Linked DNA regions of Homo sapiens: region 2 is linked to region 1. Evidence: fine-mapped expression QTL. Tissue or cell type: monocytes. Region 1 holds a variant in brackets; the other region holds the start of a gene. All regions are shown on one strand. Distances are between the middles of the regions.

Region 1 (8,109 bases):
AAGAAGCTTCCTTGAAGCCGACTGTTTTCTGACTGAAAATCCAGACTACTTTTTTAGGGGATGTGGGATGTGTATGGGTCTATGTTTGGTTGTACCCGTTGACTGCTCATGGGAAGTTAGACAAATGGCACTTACGGCCTGCTCAGCATTCTTTGAGGGATCGTGCTATCTTCTTGTATAAGTGTCTTAGAAAAGCCGGAGCACTAGGGATAGTAGCCATTGGTATGAGACCAGGAGCTGTGCTCTTCACTCTTCGGCTTTTTATCGTGAGATTATTTGCTAACTAAAGTTTTCATGAAAAATCTTAGGAGGGAAAAGCAGTCTTTGAAGAGTGTTTGGGTAAAGGTGTTCATTTTTTGAATTAACATTGCTACATTATTAATATTACGTTGATTGAAAGATGGCTTTTGTTTTCTTGCTTTCAGTGTCTTAAGTTGCTGATGTTATTTTGTTTTAGTTTTTCATTTGTATTTCCTTTTATTTTTATCTGTTTTTATCTTTGTCCATAGTCTTCTTAGTACATTGACATTTTGTACACTCTTATTCTTAAACTTTGGCATTTATTTTTCTAATATTTTCTTGTTACCTTTACATATGTTTAAATTTCTTTGCCCTTTTTGACTTTTTGCTTAAACACTTAAAAATTTTACTTATTTTTTCTGCATAGGGTTTTATTAAAACAGAGACATAAATACGCATAGAGAAGAATATTGAGAAAATGAATGACTCCAACAATGGCTTCCCTAGGCAGAGCTTTAATTTAAATTTACTTTTAAAAAAGTTGATATCTGTCTTTTTTTTTTCTCTGTGTGGCTGTTGGGTGGCATGGTTTTAAGGTAGGTGGTTCAAAATATACTTCCTACCCTAAGTAAGAGATTCAGGATACTTACCCTCCCCCTCCCCCCCCCCAGTTATTTAATAGCAGGCTCTTAGGACTTCTCATTCCTTTTTTATTCCTTTCAATTTTGAACTTCATCCTCGAAGTTCTAATCTTTTTTCTTTTTTTCTTTTTTTTTGAGATGGAGTCTTGGTGTGTCACCCAGGCTGGAGTGCAGTGTTGTGATCTTGGCTCACTGCAGCCTCTGCCTCCCAGGTTCAGCCTCCTGCCTCAGCCTCCCGAGTAGCTGGGACTACAGACATGTGCCACCACAGCCGGCTAATGTTTGTATTTTTAGTAGAGATGGGATTTCACCGTGTTGGCCAGGCTGGTCTCAAACTCCTGACCTCTAGTGATCTGCCTGCCTTGGCCTCCCAAAGTGCTGGGATTACAGGTGTGAGCCACTGCACTGGGTCTCAAAGTTCTGAATAATATAGATGTCCCATAGACAAATTTCTTACCTTTAAATAAGTTTGTTTACAATGATAAAGCCTTTGAACTATACTTAAAGGGCTTGCTCTCATGTTGCCTGTCATCCCTTTAATCATTCTTACAGGTGTTTGATTTAAAATATTTCATAATCCTCATTTAAAAATAATCTATAGCTGTGTCACATTCCTAAAATCTTCTTTCAACAAAAAAACAAAAGTTAGTGACAGGTCTTGACTAGTGTTTTATTGCTAATCTTATTATTAAGAATTGTTTTCCAATTTGTGTTTCTTAAAATAGGAATAAATATATACTTTTAGTGAATATATAGTTAGTGGTTTAAAAAGTATTTAATAGTGTAAAATACTATCATGAAAAGAAAAATTATTCATGATTCTGAGCAATATAACACATCAAATTTTTATGTGTTTGTAAATATTTTAGTGACTACATTGATGTATAATATATGGGTTCAAAAAGCAAAAGTCGTTAAGGTTATTCTTTAACCTCTACATTCTCTACTCTGAGTCAAGGTCTCTAATTGGTATGGCCTTGATGTAGATGGAGCAGATAAAACCTTGTTAGTTAGCTGACTGCCACTATATAACAGCCTTTCTCAATAAAGAGACTTAAATTAATTTAACCCTGTAACTTTGTTGTCCTCAGCAATCTCCATTGGTGCTACTGCGTTTAAAGGTCAGTATTACTGTCTTTATTTATTTTATTTTATTTATTTATTTTTTAGACATGGAGTCTTGCTCTGTTGCCCAGGCTGGAGTGCAGTGGCACGATCTCAGCTCACTGCAACCTCTGCTTCCTGGGATCAAGTGATTCTCATGCCTCAGCCTCCTGAGTAGCTGGGATTACAGGCACCCACCACCATGCCCAGCTAATTTTTCTATCTTTAGTGGAGACGGGGTTTTACCATGTTAACCAGGCTGGTCTTGAACTCCTGACCTTAAGTTATCCACCTGCCTCAGCCTCCCAAAGTGTTGGGATTACAGGTGTGAGCCACCGTGCCTGGCCTGTTGTCCTTTAATATTTTATTTCTCATTGTGAATCTCTCTCATCGTACATTTCTGTAGATTTCTCTCATTCAGAGAACTTAATTTGCTCAAGTTATTACTATAACTATTATCTTTGTTATCTCTTCTCAGTGATAAGACATTGAAAATAATACTTTTCTGTATATGAAACACTGTTCTATAAGCAAAATCTTAAGATTTAAGTTAGTTTGCACATCATAACAGTGGTAACCCTGCATTCTTTAATTAAACACGTTTAAATGTATAAATGTAAAAACAGTTTAAAGTTATAAATGCCCAGGAATCCTGATCTTGGTCATACTATGTCTGTTGAAATACAATTTTAGTGTCTTGATACCTTTTAAGTAGTATGCTATGAAATAATTCTTGTTGTAGCTGATTAGTTACTTGGGCAGATTTTCTTGTATCTTATTTTCCAAATACCAGTCATTTATAGAAATCAGACTTTGCAAAATGTAAAGGCTTTCATAGTTTCAGAAGCACAGGGACAGCTGCACAGCAAGTCCATATGTTGCTTAGCTATAATTATATTTTAATAATTATAATTTTTTTTTCTTTTGGGAAGAACTGTGGCTAACCTCCAAGAGACTGAAGCTGGTAATTGTAAGCATTCTCATTTTTTAAACACAAAGATAGAACTTTTTATTTTTCTCTGTTTTAAATGGTTGAATATATTTATCATGTATCATAGCATCCACTGGATGAAGTTACATTTCTGGGTCCTACTGTAACATTTAAATGAGTGTTCGCGTCAGATGGGAAGATTACTCGTTTTTTTTTTTTTTTTTTTGATACTCCTATATATGGATTTGCTGCCACAGGCATGCTAATTTTGCCATCTCATACATATGACTTGCTCCTTTCCGCCTCCGTTCTTCTGCACATTACCATTCCCTCCACCTGTAGGTCTCTCCTTCCTTTCCACCCATTTCCTTTTCTCTTTTCAAAAGTGGCATCTTAAGATAATTTCCTCTAGAAATTCTTTCAGGATTTATTCCATGTTACTTTTACTTATTTTCTTTGCTTCACCTTAACACTTACCATGGGTAGATACAAATTCAACTAATATGAATTGTGTTGCTGTAATTTACCAGCATACATAGTGTTAAGTAGTACAGTGATAAGATTAACTATCTCATCTATTTTTTACAGCTATCCTGTGAGTTATTCCCATTTTTACAGACAAAATTAATTATCTCAGTTACACTCTTGGTTTTAGTTGGGCTTGATTTTTTTTTTGGTATTTTTAGTATTTAATATTTAGTATTTTAGTATTTAGTATTTGGTATTTTTAGTTTCACCATGTTGGCCAGGCAGGTCTCTAACTTTTGACCTCAGGTGATCTGCCCGACTCGCCTTCCCAAAGCGCTAGGATTACAAGTGTGAGCCACCACACC[A/C]GGCCTAGTTGTGCTAGATTTTTTACATTTTTTCTGATTTTAAACATTGTTACTTAAACAGCATCATTTTGCCTTTCGCTACTTCTGTAGTCTTTCCTGCTTTCCACCTCACACCCCCCCAATATCACTTAAAAAAAATACTAAAAAAAACCCAAACTACTTTATTCAGGTATAATTTACACCTGAATAAAATGAAACCATTTTAAGTACATAGTTTGATTCATTTTGACAGATGTATACACCCATGTTACTGCTACCACAATAGATACAGATATAGAACTTTCCATCAGTCCCCAAAATTCTCTTGTGCCCTTTGAACTTAATCTTTCCCTTTCCTACTCTATGTCAGACAATGACTGATTCGGGTTCTGTTACTGTGGATTGCTTTTGTCTGTTCTAAGATTTCATATGAACGGAATCATAGAGTATGTACTCTTGTCTGGTTTATTTTGCCCTGCATATTTTTGAGATTATTCCTTTTTATTTTGGGATAGTATTCCATGGTATAGGAATACTATTACAGTATTGTAATGAATATCCAATTTGTTTATCCATTCACCTTTTGATAGACATTTGACTTGTTTGTAATTTTCGGTTATTGTAAATGAAGCTACTGTGAACATCCATGTACAAATTTTTGAGTGGACATGTTTCCATTTTTCTTTGGTAAATACTTAAGAGTAGCTGTACCATTTTGCATCTCACCAGCAATGTATGAGAGTTCCAGTTGCTCCCCTTCTCATCAACACTTACATTTTCAGTTAAAAAAATTTAATTAACATTCTAGTGGTTGTGTAATAGTATCTCATTGTGGTTTTTCATTTGCGTTTCGCTGATGACTGTGGTAGTAAGCATCTTTTCTTGGATTTATTAGCCATTTGTATTTTTTTTTGTAAATTGTTTAAATCTTTTATTCATTTAAAAAATTGTTTTCTTATTGATTTCTTATTGAAGGTTCTTTATATAGTCAGAATCTGAGTCATTTGTCTAATATATGTGTTGTGCATATTTTCTAACAGTTTATGTCTTGCCTTTTTTAAAAACTTTTTAAAGAGAAGTAATTTAATTTTTTGAAATTTAGCATATCTGTTTTCTTTCATGGTTTATATTTTTTGCATATCTTAAGAATTTTTTTGTCTACAAATTTTTATTTTCCCATTTTTATTCTAGAAGTTTTATAATGTTGGCTTTTGTATTTAGATTTGTGATTCATTTTGAGTTAATTTTTGTTTAGTATAAAAGCCAGGCTGTTTTGGTTGTTCTTGTTGTTTTTAATGAATATCCAGTTTTTACTGAAAGTATTTTCTTTTTCCCAGTGGGTTTCCTTGGCAGTTTTGTTGAAAATTAATTGACTCTGTTTATGGGTCCATTTCTAGACTCCTTATTCTATTCCATTGATATATGTGCGGTATGCTAGTACCACATTATTTTGAATGTTTTTGTAAGTTTTGAAGGTAGTGTAAATCTTCCAAACCAACATCATCTCGAAAATAGTAAAAAAACTTTGCATAGTTTACTCTCTTGACCTCATTGCTTGTGTGTATGTGTTGCTGATTTTTGTTTTTCATTTGTTTCTTTTTGTGAGTTTCTGCTTTCCAAGATGTTGCCACCACCAGGGACTTCCTGCTTGTTATTTTCCAATGCAGATATTGTATATATTAAGGAAGAAGCAAAGTACTTTCAGCTAGTCGGAAGGAATTAGACAGCAATTGGTATTCTTCTTTAGCCCGTTATTGGTAGTAAGCAACTCTAGATTCCAATAGTATATGATTTTTGACAAGGTCAGTAAATTGGGGTTGCAGCAACAAAAGTGTGTACCAGAAGCCCTGTGTTTAAATACCACGTCTGATACTTGACAGGAAATGAAATTGTAACACTTTTCAATTTAAAATTGTGTTTCTTTTCCTTCTTCGCCCATTCTTTAACAGAAACATTCCTATCCTTGCCTGAAGCAGTCTTTTGCAGGAACATTTGAGGTACTGTAATGGCAGTTGCCAAACTATAGTGTGTGTTAATTGGGAACATGTTGAATTGAAGAAAAATGTTAGATAAAAATTGCATTTAATTTTGTTTCTGACTACATATAAATGGACATTTAAAAAATCTCATTAATGAATACAGTTCCTGGTTTCAAAATAGCACTCAGGTATTTTCCCCTTCTTAAACCACTTTAGTTTACAGTAAAAATATTAGGAGAAAAGGTAAAATGTAGCATATTCAATTATAATATTGATTATATATGAATGTTTTATTTCACGTGTATTTTTGGTCTTTCCGATTAAATCGTGTGCTTTCCTAGATAGAGATTTTATCTTCTGTTTATTTTGCCTCATTTCTCACCTACTGGAAATGACTATAGATGTTGGTTATGCATTTGAATTAACTTGTTTTGATGAATAGTAAGTCCCAGGCTATAGTAGGAATATAGATGTATTTTTTTTCCTACTGAAATCACATTTGTCCTTTGAAAGACATTTCTAAGCTTTGCACTTGATAACAGCTTAGAATTTTGGAAAACCGGTAGGTAATGAGGTGGAGATGAGGTTAATAATCTCATTTCTGAGCGCTTGAGTTTCTCGCCTTTAAGTTGTTGATATAGACTGATCGTTGTTAAGTGCTTTTGGAGGGCTGGTCATCACTTGTTTGTGTCTGCTCCTGTGTTTGCCTCATAAAGACTTCAGTGGATTGCAAGATCAGTCAGACAAATGGAAACATCAGTCAGCTGCTCAAATAGATATTTTTAGAAATGTTTTTCTTCTTAGTCCTAATCATGAAGTTTACCGCAAATCCTTCATTTGATAGTGGGTAAGAGGAAATGAAGCAGGAGCTCCAGAGAAGGCACCTTGAGTAGTAGGATCCAAATGAAAATTGAAGAAGAGATTACATTCCTGAGTAAACATTTTTTTCTCCTTATGATTATTATCAAAACCTGGTCTTAAAAAAAACCTGGTTCTTGCATATGGTTATAGGATAGGTCTTATGTAATGGAGTTTAAAAACCTAGCAAGAAACACATAAATGAATACTATGCTATTGTATTTTTTTCTTATGATAGGATATATGGTGTTTTAAAATGTTCTATGTCTGACATTGATTTTACTTTTGTAAATTCATTTAAAAATATTTTGAAGTTAATTTTTATTTTATTTCCTTATTCAAAGGTAGACTATTTTGGTTACAAATGTGTTAAATAGTACCTATATCAATTTAGGGTTTTTCGGTTCAAGTAATAGAAAGGTTTGGGTAACTTAAATGATTTACTAGGATGATAAGCTCATTTTCTTCCAAGATGAAAAATGGAGTTTTAGAAATAGTAGACATTTGAACAGCTTTAGGGATCTAGAGAGCAGAAAGCAACAATCTTTGTGGAGCCCCCATTAGGATAGTTTTTTTTGTGATTGTTTTTCATTCACGTGATCACTCTGCTTGTGATTCACATTTATCAGAGAGAGAGAGACAGGCATGGACTGATTGGTCTGGCTCTTTTTTTTTTTGTCCACTCCTTTTGCTAGGAGAGCGTGGAGTACCAAGATTGCATATGTTGGAGGAGGGATGTTCCTTTCCCAAAAGAAGATCAAGGTGGATGTTAACAGAGGAAGGGGAAATGGGTCCGGACAGGTTAAAACAAAAATCCAATACTGCCGTAGTTTCTAGGTGGATATAACATTTTTAGAAATCTTATAATACAATATTAACTTCATTGGCTGAACCCAAGCCTTTCAGCCTTTATAGATTTGCCATGATCCTAATACATATAAGCATTCATTGTATTCATTATTAATTACTTCATAGATTCAGTGTGTGACGAAGGGAGATGATTTTTAACAAATAATAAAGTGAAATGATCTAGTTTTGCTATGTTGTTTGAGCAACATCAAATAGTTTTGCTTAAAATAGATAATTTATAGTGATTTTTTTTCACTATGGTATTTTCTTAAATATATTAAGTGCTTTTCATTTTCTGATACCACCTAGTTTAATTGGGGGTGAATATCAGAGAAATTAGAATGTTATTTCAGCTGAAGGAGTACAGTTTTTTTTTCTCTTCTTAGAGAATATAGTGCCTCAGATACAGTCCACAACAAAAATTTTTGTTTAGAAAAGAAAAATTTTAAGGAACAGATTTGTCAATTTCTGTGTATTTTTTGGTCAGTTTTTTTTTTTTTTTTTTTTTGAGAAGGAGTCTTGCTCTCTTGCCCAGGCTGGAGTGCAGTGGCGCGATCTCGGCTCACTGCAAGCTCCGCCTCCTGGGTTCACGCCATTCTCCTGCCTCAGCCGCCTGAGTAGCTGGGACTACAGGTGCCCACCACCATGCCTGGCTAATTTTTTGTATATTTAGTAGAGATGGGGTTTCACCGTGT
Region 2 (8,099 bases), 230 kb before region 1:
CCTCCTGAGGAGCTGGGATTATAGGCATGTGCCACCACGCATGGCTAATTTTGTATTTTTAATAGAGACAAGGTTTCTCCATGTTGGTCAGGTTGGTCTTGAACTCCGAACCTCAGGTGATCCGCCCGCCTCGGCCTCCCTAAACCCTGGGATTACAGGCGTGAGCCACCACGCCCAGCCAACTTTGGCTCTTAACCAGTATTCTACACTGCCTCTCACTGAACACCAAAAATATCCTGAAGTCTCACACAGACTCCAGCACAATTCCTTACCCAAACATGACAAACAAATGTTTAAATGACCAACTAAATGAGTGGATGATTTAATTCATTAAAAAGTAAGATTATCTTACCTAAAATACCTCTAAAAAGGCGTTTATCTAATTGTATAATCCTCTAAGAAAGGTTTTAACAGTGGGCAGTTTGCATACTAATAAGAGATTTAAGCAATGCTCATTTCTTTACCCACAAATAATTCATCTGCTTAACAAATACTAAAGTGAAAAACTGTTTTTGTGTGAGAGTATTAAATTGGAAGATAAAAAGTGAAATGAAATTTGTTCCTGCAAGATCCTATTCCACTAAATTAAAACCCACATAAGTTTTAAATCAGTCACCAAAACCAAAATAAATGTGTAACACTTCCCTTTCTTCTGGTAGAGAAAAAAGAAGTAACATTAACTGAGCACCTACAATGTGCCAGTTCTTGACCCTCAACATATAGCCTCACTTAATCCCTTACAGCCAAGTAAACTAGGCAGCATCTCCATTTTCTTTTCTTTTCTTTTTTTTTTTTTTTTGAGACATAATCTTGCTCTGTCACCCAGGATGGAGTACAGCTGCTCGATCATGGCTCACTGCAGCCTCAACCTTCCAGGCTCAAGCAATCCTCCCACCTCAGCATCCGATTAGCTGGGACTACAGGCGTGTACCACCATGCTCAGCTAATTTTTGTATTTTCTGTAGACACAGAGTTTTGCCATGTTGCCCAGGATGGTCTCGAACTCCTGGGCTCAAGTGATTCTCTCACCTCGGCTTCCCAAAGTGCTGGGACTACAGGTGTGAGCCTCCGAGCCCAGCCAGGATCTCCATTTTCTGATTACAACTGAAGCTTAAAGAAATTAAGCACTTGTCTCAGGTCACTTAGCTAGTTACCGAATTTCCAGAATTAGAATCCAAGTCTGTCTGACCCAAAGTCTATGTTCTCTCCAAAAAGAGGTTAAAAGTACTATTATTTCATTACTTACCAAGACAGAGAATGGGTTTCTTCCCAAAGGAGACTGAAAACACTGCTTATTTTAACAACAAAAACATATTATCTCAGTTAATCCTCGCTATAGCTTATTAACTATTATTTTTATCCATTATAAATGATGAAACTAGAACTCAGAGACGTATTCATAGCTTGCCCAAGAACACACTGCTAGGAGGCAGCAGAACTACCCCAGGTCTGCACCAGCTGCACACACTAACCACAGAAAATGCAGAAAGACCTCAGCCATGTAGTACAAGCTTAAGGTCCATCCAAAGTATTAAAATAATCAGACCTTGTGCTTCTTGGGTAAAAAGGAACGGTATATATTATGTATGCCAATTCCCACTATCAATGATGAGGAGGTTGACTTTCTAGTAATATCCTATCTATCGAATGGCAACCTGAAGATCGGTAGCTAAATTTCAAGCCTATACTGGCCATTCTACTACACCAAATAATCTGGATTTGTTGCCAGTTAAAATTATTCTTAAAGTAGCAAACAACAGTACTATATTACAAAGCAAAGGTTTATGAAGAACAGTATGCTAAAATACGTAAGATAGGCCTGGCATGGTGGCTCATGCCTGTAATCCCAGCACTTTAAGTAGCTAAGGTGAGAGGACCACTTGAGTTCAAGAGTTCAAGACCAGCCTAGACAACATAGGGAGACCTCTTCTTCTACAAATAATAAAAAAATCAGCCGGGTATGGTGGCGCGAGCCTGTGGTCACAGCTACTCAGGAGGCTGAGGGGAGAGGATCACTTGAGCCCTGGAGGTAGAGGCTGCAGTGAGCTGTCATCGTGTCAGTGCACTCCTGCCTGGGGGACAGGGAGAAACCCCGTCTCAAAAAAATAAACTGGATAAACACTTAAGTGTTTGAAATACTTTCACGAATACTTTCACAGGAACAGATGAATAGAAATCACTTAGCAACATTTTCAAGGCAACATCTGAAAACTACTTTGTCTATTTCCTGACGTATGTTAGGGCCTAAGTGAACCAAAAGAGATGTCTACAATGCCAGTTCTGAAAATGTTACCACTTTGGTCAGACAAGTGTTTAGTCTTACTGTATAGTTCTGTTTATCAGAAACCCAGAGTAGCCTTTTCTACTGAGACTGGCACAGGTATATATTCCGAAGGAACTGTCCCATGTGTTTTTGATAAACCAAAGTGACGAATGAGAGGGTGGTTGAGTGTTAACATGCAACATAAAAGGATGGTTGTCATTATTCACTTTTTAACAAAAACTAGTGGCATGGTACAAACCCAAATCCAGAAAAAAACAGAATCACTCCATTGCAAAGTAACCAGGTAGAGACTTCCATGTTTGTTCATCCTACAACACGACTGTCATCTTTTAACCTCATGAAAACTACCCGAGTTCTTCAGCAAACTGTGCCGCTGCCGCATACAGACATCACTGTGGATCACTAAAAATCAGAATGCATCAAGAATTGCTTCCAAGCCTTAACTAGCACTAGCTCAGCTACAAACTCGGAGGTAAACAAGCACAGACTGACTGACTGTGGAGCGGGGCACTGTTTACTTACATGGGAAGACACTCATGTTGTGATGGGAAACGTGTTGCACTGTCCACCCCTAGCTCCTAGAAAAACGGTACTTTGACAAGCTAATGTGAGTGTAAGTCTATTCCCAAAAGTTTTTACCTCTCTTCTTAATCGCTTAAGGACAAATGCTCAAAAAAGGACGCCCGACACAAGGTGCCCGAGGTGCTACCCATGGCATTACCTGGAAGGACATCACTATGCCCATGAAACTGTCCCCTCACAGTGGACTAAAAGGAAGCAATAGATACCGTCATTCACCCTGGCGAAGGAAAAAGAAATCAAAACCAGACGCGCTTCCACCTGGCCCCAAGAGGCTTGGAGCAAGACTAGGGTCTAAGCTGCGGTTCAAAAACCACACCAGGCCCCTCCGCCTCTGCTCTCAAACGCAGCGCGGCGACACAGCAGAACCATCAACACCTCCACCTCTGTCCTCCAGGCACAGCCAGGGACTGCGTCCCAGAGCCCGCCCCGGTCGGGCCCGCCCCGCTATCTCCTCCCCCGTTATCCGCTCGCAGCCGCGCTCAGGCCTGGATTCGCCTCCCCACCCTCCCCAACTTCGGCACGTCCCACTACCCCACACACGTCGGCCGCCGCCCTCGGCGAGTCCGGGGAAGAAAGGCTGGAGGGCCGCAGGGCAAGGAATCCACTCAGCACGGTTCCTCACCTCTGGGTGGAGAAGGGGCACACAGCCCGCTTCGGTATCGTACTCATCCGGGCCGTCCGCCATCTTGGTGTTAAATCCCTCCTCCCGCTGCATGCTGGGAGAAAGCGTTTCACCCTCCCGGGGCTCGGGCGAGGCGGAGGGCGAGCGCGGGGCGAGCGCGAGCCCCGCCGGAGGCGACGCGGGCCTCCTCCTCCTTCTTCTCCTGCCCCCGTGACGCCCCCTCTGTCCCCTCCCCCCTCGGAGGGCGCGGGTTTCTCCGCGCGTGCGCGGAAGCGCGGCCCGGCCCCAGACTGGATCGCGCTCTGCTGCACTGCGCTGGGGACGGCGGAGGGCTCTGGGCGTGGGCCCCGCGGCTCGGGGGCGGGTCCCGGCTGGAGGTAGATGTGAAGCTCTGGCTGCCCGGGGGAGGCGGCCGGGCGGTTGAGACAGTCGCTTGGGAAACCTAGCAGCTGCTCAGGAGCGAGAACAGAGCTCCGGAGCCGCACGCAGCACAAGTCTGGAGCCCCAGGCAGCCGAGGAGCCCACGCCCACGCGCTCCCACTTCCGCTCCGGGACCCCCGGGACCCCTCTTCAGGAACTCGGGCAGAGTCGTCAGCCAGCTCCAGGGAGGTTTGGGCCCGTCAGGCTTGAGTCGAGACCTGCATCATTCCTGAAGACAAAAGCAGCTTCCCTTTCCTCCACACTTGAAAAGGTCACCCGCAACCTGTCCCTCCGGGGGACGCCCGGAAAAACATGGATACAACTCGGGACTTCCTACTAGAGAACCCTTTTTTTTTTTTTTTTTTTTTTTTTTTTTTTTTTAATGAGACAGAGTTTTGCTCTTGCCGCCCAGGCGGGAGTGCAATGGCGCGATCTCAGCTCACTGCAACCTCTGCCTCCCGGTTCAAGCGATTCTCCTGCCTCAGCCTCCCGAGTAGCTGGAATTACAGGTGCACGCCACCACGCCCGGCTAATTTTTGTATTTTTAGTAGAGACGGGTTTTCACCATGTTGGCCAGGCTAGTCTCGAACTCCTGACCTTAAGCGATCCGCCCGCCTCGGCCTCCCAAAGTGCTGGGATTACAGGCTTGAGTCACCACACCCTGCCGAGAACTCTTTTTAAAATGATCCCAACCTGCTCTCAATCGTCTTGAATTAGTACCACACAAAAAATTTACGAGCTCAAAGCCCACACACCGCCATCTGCAACATTTCGATATAATCCAGGAATTCAGAACTGAAGCCACTTAAACTGAATTCGCTTAAATGCAAGGCAGATAAAATGACTAAAGCCATTTTTTAAAGGATTTTAGGGCGGTATGGGGGAGGTGCTCCCTGTAAATGGGCTGATGGGACAGTTTTAGATAGCATTTGTCTTTCCTTTTAGCTGTTAAAAATTGTAAGTCTAAACAGCTGAGAATTTAGCAGAGATCATGAAAGTTGACCTATTAGAGATCCTGGTACTTACTAATCTGTCTCCTGTTAGGCCAGAAACCACCAGGAAAAAGCCTGTACTCCGATAACGTCAGGCCAATTTGTAAATCAGGAGGGAGGGCACTCCAAAGGAAGCTTGGAATGCCACTGGAAAAGGAAAGAGGAAGCCTCCTTTGTAAGATTAGTTTCCCGCCAAAGGAGTCTGAGGAGGGTCTAAGGAGAGCCAGAATCAGTTCTGCATGGGACGCCGTTTCCGTGGCGGCATGAAGAAAAGCTGGGATTTACGAGGGATTGGATGCTGTCTTGAGGATACAGCAATTTAGTAATTAGGTACCTCCAGTAATAAAGTAGCAACACTAGTAAGAGCAGCAGTTACTCAAAGAGGGGTGAATATGGCGTGTCATAGCTACTGCACGGCTGTGGGAGAAAGAAGTTTCTCAGTTAACTTTGCTGCTGGCTTTTTCTGTATCTGTCCTCCCAGCACAACTACTTTTTCTCATTTCAGTCCGAGCTGATTTTCATTCTGTTCGTCCTGGCCCAAACTAGGAGTCATCTTTTACAGCTAGATAGTCTCAGGGTCGGCCCTTGGAGCATCGAATTGTTTTCAGTCATATGTTAACATGGACATAAGTCATTTTCACTCAAAAATCTCAATTTTTTTTTTTTTTTTGAGACTGAGTTTCACTCATGCCCAGGCTGGAGTGCAATGGCTCGATCTCGGCTCACTGCAACCACCACCTCCCAGGTTCAAGCGATTCTCCTGCCTCAGCCTCCCAAGTAGCTGGGATTACAGACATGCGCCACCATGCCCGGCTAATTTTGTATTTTTAGTAGAGACAGGGTTTCTCCATGTTGGTCAGGATGGTCTGGAACTGCCGGCCTCAGGTGATCCACCCGCGTCTGCCTCCTAAATTGCTAGGATTACAGGCGTGAGCCACCGCACCCAGCCAAAAATCTCAATTTTTTTTTTTTTTTTTTTTTTGAGACGGAGTCTTTCTTGCTCTGCGGCCCAGGCTGGAGTGCAGTGGCGAGATCTCAGGTCACTGCAACCTCTGCCTCCCAGATTCAAGCGATTCTCCTGCCTCAGCCTCCTGAGTAGCTGGGATTAAGGGCGCGCCACCATGCCCTGCTAATTTTTGTATTTTTAGTAGGGATGGGGTTTCACCATGTTGGTCAGGCTGGTCTCGAACTCCTGACCTCGTGATCCACCCACCTCGGCCTCCCAAAATCTTGGGATTACAGGCGTGAGCCACTGCGCCCGGCCAAAAATCTCAATTTTGAATCTTGCCCTTCCTTACCTTTATGTCTTGCATTGACTAGAAATAGAAGATTAGAGTAAATAAAGGACACCGACTGAAAAAGTTAAGTGGCATAAATATTAATAAAGCATTGAATGAAGTGAGAGTGTAAAGAAACTAGGCATGGAAAACTGGAGAAAATGTTTCAGGTACCCATGTATTAGGAATATTGGTACAGGTATATGATGTGGAGTATTCATAAAAGAAATGTTTAGCCTTCCCTGCGAAAATCAGTAAATCAGAGTTCACTTTAAAATCTAGAGTTCTAGTTCATCTGGCAAACAAGCCATCTTGACCTTCTTGCTCAGTCTCTACCAGGTCTATGGCCTGCTTTACTCGTTCTCATTACCTGCCTGGCTCTGTGGATATTTTTACTCCTGAGAATTCCACAATTCAAATATAAGGAAAATACTAAAAGCAGCCGAAAAGTTGGAACAACATAACCAGGGTCCATGTCTGTCTTGCTTACTGCTGGAGCACTAAAATAAATAGTTATTAAATGAAGAACTGAAGAAAGAGATCAAGAGCAGAAGCAGGCATGCTTAGGAAAACATGTTGAAGTTGAATCTTGAAGCAAACCCTTTAGATATGATCAGAGTCCATCTTGATAACTGTAGAGTTCTTATCTATAGCTCAAATTGAGAAAATATATTCAGGGGACTAAGGAGACAGCTAAGAAAGTACACTGATTGGATAGACTGGCAAAAGAATGGCATAGAATTATGGAGGAATGCAGAATAGTGGCTAAAAAAGAATAAAATTCAAAGAGAAAAATAGACCTTGTTAGAGAATAATTGTGAAATGGATTTAGAAGCAAACAGATTGGAAGGCATGGGGCATTGTTGTATAAATATAGTTTCATATGTAACTTCAGACACTACTGGAGCTAAAGACAGCATAGAGATTATCCAGATTTAGTCATTTCACAAAAAAGGAAATGATGGGGAATTTAAGAAACTCTCTTAAAGTTACAAAACTAGGTGGTAGCAGAATCATCTGGAAGCCTCCTGAATTTTCCCCATCTACTACTCTTTGCCTCTACCACGTTTCTTCTGTTGTTATTATCCTCAATGAATTATTACTTGGTCCATTTAATTTTTTTTATTGTGGGCCGGGCACGGTGGCTCACGCCTGTAATCCCAGCACTTTGGGAGGCCGAGGCGGGTGGATCACGAGGTCAGGAGATCGAGACCATCCTAGCTAACACGGTGAAACCCCATGTCTACTAAAAATACAAAAAATTAGCCGGGCATGGTGGCTGGCGCCTGTAGTCCCAGCTACTCGGGAGGCTGAGGCAGGAGAACGGCGTGAACCCGGGAGCGGCATGTGCAGTGAGCTGAGATCACGCCACTGCATTCCAGCCTGGGCGACAGAGCAAGACTCTGTCTTAAAAAAAAAAAAAAAAAAAAAAAAAAGGTTTTTTTGTGGTGAGAACACCTGACGCAAGATCTCTCTTAAATTTCTTTTTTTTTTTTTTTTTGAGACGGAGTCTTGCTCTGTCGCCCAGGCTAAAGTGCAGTGGTGCGACCTCGGCTCACTGCCAGCTCCGTCTCCCAGGTTCACGCCATTCTCCTGCCTCAGCCTCCCGAGTAGCTGGGACTACAGGCGCCCGCCACCACACCCGGCTAATTTTTTGTATTTTTAGTAGAGACAGGGTTTCACCGTTACCCAGGATGGTCTCGATCTCCTGACCTCGTGATCCACCCGCCTCGGCCTCCCAAAGTGCTGGGATTACAGGCGTGAGCCACGGTGCCCGGCCGATCTCTCTTAAATTTTTAAGTGCACAATAGGGTATTGTTAACCATAGGCACAATGGTGTACAGCAGATTTCTAGACCTTATTCGTCTTATATAACTGAAACTTTATACCCATTGAACAGCACCTCCCCATATCCTTCTACC

Evidence for each region. PIP is the estimated chance that this variant, and not a neighbour inherited with it, causes the effect.
Region 2: it holds the start of ZDHHC17, and the variant in region 1 is fine-mapped to the expression of ZDHHC17 in monocytes (TOPMed, PIP 0.96). The same link has a PIP of 0.9 or more in whole blood.

The regions. Positions count from the first base shown.
Region 1 is chr12:76,531,850-76,539,958 of GRCh38, reverse strand. All of the region lies in intron 1 of OSBPL8 (oxysterol binding protein like 8), which reads left to right. Among named protein-coding and RNA genes, the nearest start is that of OSBPL8, 24 kb to the left of the region's middle. The variant A/C (reference allele first, on the strand shown) is at 3,750.
Region 2 is chr12:76,759,719-76,767,817 of GRCh38, reverse strand. ZDHHC17 (zDHHC palmitoyltransferase 17) reads right to left here and starts at 3,703. Exons shown (of 17, transcript NM_015336.4): 1 at 3,489-3,703. The coding sequence starts at 3,581. RefSeq lists enhancers at 3,356-3,505, 2,697-3,539, 3,515-3,809, 4,106-4,205 and a silencer at 3,556-3,965.